Regions from separate parts of the Homo sapiens genome. Here region 2 is linked to region 1. The links come from fine-mapping of genetic effects on gene expression. A gene starts in region 1. The other region holds a variant in brackets. All regions are shown on one strand. Distances are from middle to middle.

Region 1 (5,378 bases):
CCCAGCGATAACCTCTTCCCCAGCCTTCTTTTCAGGCTTGGCCTGGGCACTAGGCTCAATCTCTGCCCCAGTCATGGTACAAGTTACAAAGAAAGTCAGGTAATATACTCCTCCCGTAGTCTAAACCTCAACCACAGATCTGTCACAGGTTTGTTTCTTCACACTCTGATCTTTAGGTGATTAAGGATATAAGCTTGGGAATAAGAGTTAGAGTCAATATCCAGTCCAGTAGTCACTCAGCCTCCTTCCCAAACACAGTCTCAGTCAATAATTCAATAATACAGATAGAGTGAGAACAGGTACAACCAAGCTAAAGGAAGACAGATATTTCCTGGATGGGTGCAGACCCGTTGAGGGTGGTTGTCAGCAGCAACTCCACCACCAGCAGAGCAGCCACTGGAGGTGGATCTAGGGAGAGAGAATGAAATGAGGCTTTGAGTCTCTTCCAATTGTATGAGACGTATGCAGTGCGACTGATGTTGAATGCTAGGTGGGACAGCTGGGCTTTGAGAAAGTCTCTCTGGACCGGCTGCCTCCTACAAAACAGGTCCAACAATGGTGGGAAAGTGTGTCGGCAATGGGAGGGGCCAAGAAGCCCCCAGATTGGACCCTAATCACTCCCGGACCCATGCTGGTCTCCACTACCCCGCCCAAAAGTATACCCGCTCTCATACCAACCTTCACTGATGTGGTGCAGTTTCCCCCTCCTTTTCTTGTTCAAGTGGTGTCAAGCCCCACAGCTGACAGAAGGGGGTCCTACAGACAAGTGAACATACAGGAGAGAATGGAGTGTGAGTGCTTGGTAGGTAGGTGGGCACTCTGGCCCCTGTGACAAATATCTGTCTTCCCATTCAAGAGTTCAATGTATCTATGGTTTCCTGTGTCCTAGTCCCTGCTCTCAGGTCTTTTCTGAGTCACAACCCAACCTACACCTATCTCGTGTCTCCTGCAAGAAATAAAAAGGATGCTGGCACTGTGCAAATCCGGCAGAATAGAAGTGGGTCTGCCACTTCTACTACAGGTGGAAGTGGATCTGCCACCTGCCATGCTCTCTCCAACTGTCCCCTGCATTGTCCTCTCCCCCTTCTCACTAACCTCCAGAGCTGTGAGCCAGTCTCCTCCTCCTTGCCTTTCTTGCAGAATTGGCCAGCCTTAAAGTAGGCCTATGGACAAACACATGAAAAAGTAAGACAGTCAGGATATGAGTGGTGGCAGAAGAGCACTTGGTAGACAGGCCAACGCCAAGGATAAGAGTCCCCATATTATTGGTATCTGTCTTTCAACATTCGGGGTTTTGCTGGTGGAATATTCTCGTTTTATTTGGGCCCTGCTTCAAGGTTCCAGAGATAACAACTCCTTCTCTTGACGTCATATTCTTCCCATTACTCCCTTCTCCAATTCTGAGGATTCACCACTAGGTGCGCCACATCCCCTTGCTCTGCGCAGCATAAAATGGGGGAAGGGCGCCGCATATTCTAGAAAACAGGTTGTGAATTAGTACTTGTCAGTATGTCTCCCTCATCACCCCCACCTCCAAAGCCCACCCTTTCATGCCCCCAGTTTAGGACGGTGGGGGAGACAGGTGGGGATGGAAGGTGGGGGGAGCGCCATTAGAGAGGTGAAGATTAGGAGGTGCTCCTGGATGCCTGACTTGCTCTGGTCACAGTCCCCTACCCCGATTCGGGTCCCCAATCAGTGTTTAGCGCCCAACCCCCATCCCCACACACCTCCAGAAATCCAGGCAATATTCGTGCTCCTTTATTTCAAGCCTCTCCTCTACAGACGCTCACTGTGTCCTGTCAGAATACGCCAGACCTACCGCACAGACACAAGACTTTGACATCAACCTGGAGCCTGTGGGAAGGGAAGGCACCGAGGACATGGGGCCCCACAGGCCCCTTTCGGGAATCGGGACCCGGAGTAGCAAACGCGGCTCACCTCCGGCGGACTGGGTACAGAGCCGGGACGCCGACCCCCGCCGGCCTCGCCGGGCGCCCCCCAACGGCCTTCCCGGGCGCCCCCACAGCGGCTCCCGCTCCGCCATTTCTCCCGCAGGAGCCTCCCCCACAGCCCTCTCCGGGCACAGACACCGTCGAGGGCGGGGCGCGGGCGCCTGCAAAGCTGGCTGGGAAGCGGTCAGCGCGGTTCTCCTCCAAACGATCTGGCGGTGCCTCCCGAGCCAGCCCCTCAGCCCTTGGCCAGGCCCGCTCCGGTCACCGCCTCCCCATCGCCAGGGGTCTCGGGCACTGCGCACCTCTCTCAAGCGCCTGGCTCCGACCGGATCGTCTCCTCGTTGCCAGGCTGTCAGGGTCCGCGGGGCAGGCTGCCTGCTGGTCCACCCTGCCAGACCACCCCCGCAACCCGGACCCCCACCTCATGCACCCGCACTTGCCTTCAGAGGCCCAGGGCCCAGGTCGTCGGCCTCCCCCTCCTCTCCTCAGCTCTCCTCTGGCTCACTTGGAGCCACTGCTTTCCCCGCGATCCGAACGGGAAAGACGCGTCCCGCCCCCCACGCCTCTGCACCAAAGTAGGCAGGGGCTGCGCAGGATGCGGCAAGAACCGCTCGCCGCGAGGGTGTCGGGAAGGGGGGCGGAGGGATACGGCGCGAAAGTGCTTGACGCCCCCATCCCAGGCCCACCGTAGTTCCGACCCCGAGGTGGGCAGGGCCAGGATGAGCCCCAGCCTGGGCGTGCGGGTTGGCACCAGGCTGCCTCAGGAGGCCCCCACGGACCCTAACGTGGCGACCACTACCATATTTCTGTCGCTGCTGTAATATATGGGACCAGCGGGCGGCTGGGGGCCCGGGCAGGGGACAGGATCGCGAGGTCGGGAAGAGCCGCGCTGGAGAGAACAGCGGATGGATACCAAACCGCCCCGTGATGTGTCTGCACCCCCGCCCCAACCGCCCCCCTCACAGGGACTGCTGGGTGTCTGCCCCCTCCCTCTCCCCAGTCCCCTAACCCTCCTTTCTGGAAGCTGATGGGAAAGGGGGTGTCAGCACTGCAGTGTGGGAGGGGAGAGGCGATTTCAGGCCATACAGGCCCGGGGCTCTAGGGTGGTCCTCTTGTGCGTTTCTTTCCCAGCTTCGTGGAGCCACGCAGGGGAGGAAGGTACACCTGCTCTTAAGTGAACTCCGGGGCAGGGGGCTCCCATCAAGGACTCACCACTGCCCCTCTTCTAAAAGAAGGTAGACCTAGACCTCTAACCCTAGGAAACCAACCACTGGTCTGCACCAAACTCATTCCTTTCTGCCACACTGCTCTTTCTCATTTCAAATGGTGGCTCACGTTGGCATTGCGCCGTCGCCACAGTTGCCCCCAGAAGAGGACCTTTCCCTGTCAGGACCCGCAGGAGGTCATAACAGTCCTCTCTCTTTGATGCCGCCAGGTAGGGATGGTCCTGGCTCCTCTTCGGTTCCCTGTCAAGTCTTCTCTTGCCATGACATTTGGCAGTGTGGAAATGTGGCTGGTATTCGAACCAGCTTGGATCTCAGCCACCTGCCACAACTACCTGCTGTTTCAGCAGTCATTCTCAGGAGAGGATCCCACCGTGCACCCCCCTCCCCGAGACAAAGCAACCTGGCTCCTTTTGAATCCTCTTCTTTCACCCCAACATCCGTCCTCTACTCTTGAGCCCCTCCTTTCCCTGCTTCCTGCATGGGACAGACAGAGCAATGTGGTTAAATACGAAGTTGATGTTGTTGTTACTGCTGTCCATTTGAAAACTCATTTAGGTGCTACCCTTATTGTGTTTGGCAAGTAACGGTCCCCTAAAGATGTCCATGTCCTGTTCTCCAGAACATGTACCATTTTATATTTCCTGGCAAAGGATCATTAAGATTGCTAATCAGCTGAATTTAATTTAAGATTATGCTGGATTATCTTGGCCAATGTAATTGCAAGGGTACTTTAAATGTGGAAGAGGGAGGCAGTGACTCAATATCAGATTGAAGCATCATGAGAAGGTCTACACTGGCCATTGTTGGCTTTGAAGATGGAAGGAAGCCAAGATCCAAGAAATACAGGCTGTCTCCAGAACCTGGAAAAGACAAAGAAACAGATTCTTCCCTAGAAATGCCAGAGGGATAGCTCCTCTGGCAACATCTTGATTTTAGTGTAATGAAACCCTTTGCAGATTTCCAGCCTCTAGGACTGTAAGATAATAATAAATTTGTATTATTTTAAGCCCTTCTATGTGTGGTAATTGGTTAAAGCAGCAGTATGAACCTAATACACTCACCATCCTGATGAAGTCTATTCCCCTTGACTTTCTTTACCCGTGGATCAGTCTCTGGGGAAGATCTATTTTGGAGCTCATGCCTCACCACTACAAACATCAATTGCCTCTTCTTTGCTTCCTAAAGGACAGTGATTTTTTTTATGTCCCTTATAGGTAATCTTGGAGAAAGTTCCTTTTTGCTGAAACCACTGATATTTCCCAGGTACAAAAGGGAACCCTATTCTTTTGTTGTTGTTGTTGCTGGTTTTGAGAGGGACTATCGGTGTTGTTGCCCAGGCTGGCTGGAGTGCAATGGTGCCATCTTGGCTCACTGCAACCTCCGCCTCCTGGGTTCAAGTGATTCTCCTGCCTCAGCCTCCTGAGTAGCTGGGATTACAGGTATGCCCCAAGACGCCTGGCTTATTTTTTGTATTTTTAGTAGAGATGGGGTTTCTTTATGTTGGTCAGGCTTGTCTGGAACTCCTGACTTCAGGTGATCTGCCTGCCTCGGCCTCCCAAAGTGCTGGGATTACAGGCGTGAGCCACCGTGCCTGGCCAGGAGCCCTATTCTTATGATGAATTTTCATATATTTCCATACAGCTTTTGTTACCAGATATTTACTATAACTGTACAATATTTTGCTGATATGAAGAAAACATGTGAGGATGATTCTGTACCACATCTGGAGATGAATGTTATGTATTAGAGGAAGACCACGTTAACTCTGCCTTTTTCATGGCCTTAACTGAATGGTGGATTTTCTCTGTTCCACAGCATACTCTCATGAATGAATTACAGGCTTGGGAGAACAGAGCCTGGGTCTGCTGGAATTTGTTGGCGCGTGTACATCTCTTTGCCTTCCTGAGCTGTTCTTCCCCTTTCATAACGTTACTGATGCCTTTCATTTATTCAACAAATATATATTGAGCTCCTACTTTCTCCTAGGCAGTGGGCATACAGTATAAACCAAAGAGAAATGAATCCCCTTTCTTGTGGTGCTTACATTCACCTGTGGTTTCCTGTTCAATTCCCTATTCTGAAAGTTTGCAGATGTATCGAAAACTATGCCAGCACAAGTTACTGTGGTAATTCTGGAGGCGCTGGGATCTTGCTCTCAAGATATTTACCTATAGAGGGGTGGTTCTACCAAAAGCTGATC
Region 2 (5,378 bases), 520 kb before region 1:
GTAATATGTTACCTGCGATAGAAACTAAATATAATCCCAAATGTCTTTAGTGCATATTTCCCCCAAAGAGACATTTTCCTATATAACTGCAATATGATGATCAAAATTTTAAAAATTAACATTGATATATTATTGCCATCTAAACTTAGAACCCAATAAATTTTCACGTTATTCCAGCAATGTTCTTTATAGCAAAAGGATCCAGTTCACAATCACCTGTTGCATTTAATTGGTGACTCTTTATTATCCTTTCATATAGAGTATGTCCTTAGGCTTTTGTTGACTTTCATGATCTTACAGTTGTTATTTTCTAGAATGTCCCTTATTTTGGATTTGCTTCCTATTTCCTCTTGAATGGATTCAAGTTATGCATCTTTGGCAGGACTATTACCAAAGTGATGTTGTAGTATTCTCTCTTTTTTTTTTGAGACGGAGTCTCGCTCAGTGGCCCAGGCTGGAGTGCAGTGGCATGATCTCTGCTCACTGCAAGCTCTGCCTCGCAGGTTCACGCCATTCTCCTGCCTCAGCCTCCCGAGTAGCTGGAACTACAGGAGCCAGTGACCACACCCGGCTAATTTTTTGTATTTTTAGTAGAGATGGGGTTTCACCGTGTTAGCCAGGATGGTCTCTATCTGCTGATCTCGTGATCCGCCTGCCTCGGCCTCCCAAAGTGCTGGGATTACAGGAGTGAGCCACCGCGCCTGGCCTATAGTATTCTCTTTCTGTCCTATCAGGTGGCACAGAATTTTGGTTTGTCCCATTACTTATAATATCCTCATTGACCATTTGTTTAAGATAGTGATTTCCAGGCCATTTCGGTACTCGTTTTTCCATGGTAATTATTAATATTTTATGGTGAGGAATTTTGAAATTATGTAAATATTTATTGTGTATTTATATATGTATATTTATTTATATACTGACTTATGTTTTCTTTTTTTGATTCAACAAGCTATACTGTGTTCTATATTTCTTTATTTTGATGCTCACAGTGTCTCCTACTTGACTTGTAGAAGCTTCTTCAGGCTTGCTTCCACGTCCTTTTGGTATGCCTCCATCATTTCTTTAGCACTTTGCTTTCTGGCACAGCAAGATGTTCCAGATTCATTGCGTTATTTTCCTGTCCCATCCAACAATTCTCCAAGGATTCCTTGTTCCTTTTATTTAATAATGGCATTTTGAAAGCAAGATATGAACAATTAGTTGTGCTTATTGCTATTGGGGTGTTGTGACTCCCAGGCCCTCTAAGTGGAAGGAATCAGGCAATATTTGTATATACACAGAGAGACACACACACAAATTCTCACACTCATATACATTCACACATTTACATCTATATTTCTGTATCTGTATCCATTGAAGCCATGACTTCACACTGATACCTAACTCCAATACAATACCACCAGGTTCATTCTAGTTTTCTCCCTTTCTATATTTGTAACTCTCTTCAATGACAATGAGAACCTTGGATCCCATTACCTTTACTTGACCAATCCCCCTATATGTAAACAATCTCCCATTTCCTGCACTCCTCGTTCCCTGCTTGGAAGCTCCACTTGACATCCTCCCAACTGTGGATTACAGTCCCTGTTTTCCAACCCACTTTGTAAACCTGTTCTGGCTGAGAAGTAGTGCAACAGACTTCCTCCCTACCCAACTCCTACCATACAGGTACCTTCCTCACACTGTTAGCAGCATGGACATGCTTCTTAACCTGCTCAGACTCTGAAACCCCGCTCCAGTCTGCCACACACTTCCTCCACATGGACACACTCTTCAACCAGATAAAACTCCAATATCTCTCACTTGGCTGTCTCCTGTCTGGGAAGCCCTCATCATAATTTTTAGGCTCTGACTCCCTGCGATAAGCTGCTCTCCCAGCATGAATGCCTTCCTCACCCTGCTCAGGCAAACACAGCTCCCTCCTCTCATCTGATAAAGACACTTACCTTGACCTTCCCCATCTGACAGTGTTGGGACTGAATTGTTGAGGAAGGGAAGGGAAGGGCTGAGGACAAGAAAAACAAACATTTAGTTCTGTTTTATGACTGAACTATGTAACTACATTACCAAACTAAAAGATATAAGCAGCATTGGGCT[T/A]AAGTTAAATTCAAAAGTAAGTATAGCCCACGTGTGGTGAAACTGCTCACAAAACAGCACTTGATCACAAACGGATCACCATCTTCATGCCCAATTGAGGATATCTTCTGTCAATAACTCCATTAAAATGATGGTAAGGTTGCCTCTGACTACATGTAAGCAGCAGAGGAGTCAATAGAATCTTTGTTTTTAACTTGGTGCAGGAAGTAAAAAGGGATATTTGTGAGCCAATCAGCAAATAGCTTCTCTCAAGCCTCTGAGATTTCTGGAGACACACCAAGTAAACATTATAGATGCTACTAAAGCAGAATGAGAGTGGGCACCTGCCTACTACCCTGGCACCTAACTTTCTGAGGAGATGGGCTCTCTCTCTCTACACACACACACACGCATGCATGCACGCACGCGCACACACACACACCTAAGATGAAAGAGACAGGGCAGCCTTTGTTAAAGGCCACAGAAGAGGTCAAGGCCCCATGTGCTGTGCATCAATGACAGAAATGGAAGAGATTGCTTCTAGTTGGCGACACCCTATGATCAGGACTGGGCCTTAAGAAATAGGTAGTACAAGGAAGAGGAAGCCAAGATAGAGAAGGGGGAAAATGGAACTCTGCTTCAGAATATCCCTAGTTTCAACCCTGATTAGGTCTTCCTTACCAGCTAAATCAGCTCCTCTTCCTCTATATGAGTGAGGCTGTTCCTACTTTGTTTGAAGATCCATAACAACCTGCCTCAAGGTCCCTTGTAAGGGAGACCAATTGTCCTCATTCCCTCTTCATTGCCCCACAGATGTACTTATTTTCTCTAAATCTGTAATTAGAATCAAATCCCAGTATGCTGGAGTGTGGGAAAGTGGGAAGATTGAAATTAGAAAATCAAATAGCTCACACACCAGATACATTACAAGCTTTTTAATATTTATATTGTTATAATGGGAAATATAACCTTACCTATTTCAGCCTCATTTTTGGTTGGGACCCCAAGACAACTGGGTGTCAACTACTGCTAAATTCCAAAGTGGAGAGTAAGGTAATAAAAGCAGGTTTTGCAATGGACATGAATGAGCACTGATTTTGTTGCACTTAAATAACCACCGACTTGCAGCCTACAAAAGACATTTGAGAGGCCAAGAAGATTGCTGGAGATTAAAAGAAAGTTTGTTTGTTTGTTTTTTTCCTGTTGAGACAAAAACAAAACAAAACAAAACAAAAAAAGCTGGAGTGCAGTGGCACAATCTCAGCTCACTGCAACCTCCACCTCCCAGGCTCAAGCCATCCTCCCACCTCAGCCTCCCAAGTAGCTGGGACTACAGTCTTGCACCACCACAGCTGGCTAATTTTTGTGGGTTTTTGTTGGTGTTGTTCTTGTTTTAGAGATGGGGTTTCACTATGTTGCCCAGGCTGGTCTCCAACTTGTGAGCTCAAGTGATCCACCTGCCTTGGCCTCCCAAAGTGCTGGGATTACAGGCATGAACCACTGCACCTGGCCTGGAAAGGAGTTTCTAATGAGAGCTGTTGGTATTCCATGAGTGCCCCCACATAAGGAAGGCAAGGGGCTTTTCATATCACATCAAGCTTGAGGCAAAAATCTTCAATTTGGCGATTCAGAGCTCCTGGAACTTGATAACATAGTAAGCATCCGAATTATCCCTGAGAAATCCAAAAAACAAGAGACTGGCTGACCAGCTACCTTGATATCAGAGTGAAGAAAGTTTGGGGAGAGCCTGGACTCTTTGAATTTGAGAGCCATTTTGGGCAAAGGATGTGTAAGTGCTTCCCGTGGACTTGACATGGGCCATATGGAAGACAGAAGTAGCTTGGAGATGTCATAGATTTAGATCATGATGGTCTTTTGGAGAAGAAAAAAAAACACCTTAAAATAAACAACCTGGAGATATACTGCTGGAAGGTTAAAGGCTAAATAAGGAGTCAAAAGCAACTAGCCCAGGGATATGTTTTTCAAGAGAACAGCAAGGGAGAGCTCCTCAACAATGGGAGACTCCCTATAGTACTCTGAAAAATGTCACACAAGAGAAGGAGTCATAGAAAGTGCCAATACTGGATGGCTATAACAGTGTCAATTATATAAGATTTTAATTTCTTCTCACCTCCTCTCTGCCCTCATTGAACAGAAACTGTTTTATGACTAGAACTGACAGGAGGATTTTTACTTTACATGAGCAGGCAGAAAAGTTATGGAGCATACCCTAGATTTCACCCAGGGGACAAGAGTAGAACTAGTTCCAAAGAACAGGTTTGCATAGGCAGCAGGAAAAAAAAGTTGGTATATTATTCATCCTACAGATTCTGCTTGTTTAATGTATTTGCCACATTGCCAATAATCTCCAGAATATGTTTGAGAATAGTTTCTGAGGATATTAGCTAAAGGTAGGAAGGAACATAATTTTAGCTACTGTGGTCAGGCATCCTTTCAACTTAGAGCCACTGCATTTGTTATTTATTCTGCCTAGAAATCTACCCTGAGATATTCACCTGTATCACTCCCTCACCTCCTTCAGCTGTTTCCTCACAAGCCTTCTTTTGTTGTCTCTTCAATAAGAACTTAAGTTCCAAGAAGACTGGGATATTTTGTTTTGTTTTGTTTTGTTCAGTCCTGTAAACCTCAACACCTAGGACAGCACCAGGCACATAATAAGTGCCTAATAATTTGTTAAATTATTATTTAATATTAATTAGCTATTAATAATAATTTTATTATTATATAATATATATTGTTATATATAATAATCATTAGCTATTAATCAATATTTGTGCATACAGCAGAGATTCTAAATCCAATCTGTTATCTCACGCAGCTGGATTCTAATTGTTTGCTCAGTTGGTTGACTGAAATATGGGTTTCTGATGGATCACACTAAACGAGATTGGTATACAAGAGATTGCTTAGTATGCTGTAGAGGCAAGAACCTAAAGAATCATGGAAAAGGGAATGTTATTGTGTATTTATCATGTATTATGAGTACATCTACTTCCTAACTATGTCCAGAGAGAGGGCCATACGATGTTACTGCTAACAGCAAATTGAGTAATGAACAGGCAAGTATATTTTTAAAGTTCTTAACATGGCTATTCTCCTTAGGCAGAGGATGCTGAGAGTGACTCTAAAGCTTGATATGTCATCTTGATTTCAGTAGTGATGCCAGGATCTCATGTAAAGTAAATTAAGAAGCTGAACTTAATCACCTGGATGATTAACCAAGGAAGGCCTGGTTACCTTAATATGCACCAGGAATGTCATGCTAGACAGAATAATTT

The links. PIP is the estimated chance that this variant, and not a neighbour inherited with it, causes the effect.
Region 2: its variant is the best candidate, but not a certain one, in a credible set for the expression of GPRASP2 in whole blood (TOPMed, PIP 0.77).

The regions. Positions count from the first base shown.
Region 1 is chrX:102,709,567-102,714,944 of GRCh38, reverse strand. GPRASP2 (G protein-coupled receptor associated sorting protein 2) reads right to left here and starts at 2,497. Exons shown (of 5, transcript NM_001004051.4): 1 at 2,393-2,497; 2 at 1,728-1,815; 3 at 1,096-1,163; 4 at 679-756; 5 at 1-408. The coding sequence starts at 75. It overlaps ARMCX5-GPRASP2 (ARMCX5-GPRASP2 readthrough), which reads right to left. Exons shown (of 19, transcript NR_146584.3): 5 at 1,096-1,163; 6 at 679-756.
Region 2 is chrX:103,229,908-103,235,285 of GRCh38, reverse strand. No RefSeq gene overlaps it. Among named protein-coding and RNA genes, the nearest start is that of BEX4, 17 kb to the right of the region's middle. RefSeq lists a cis regulatory region at 1,567-2,149. The variant T/A (reference allele first, on the strand shown) is at 2,101.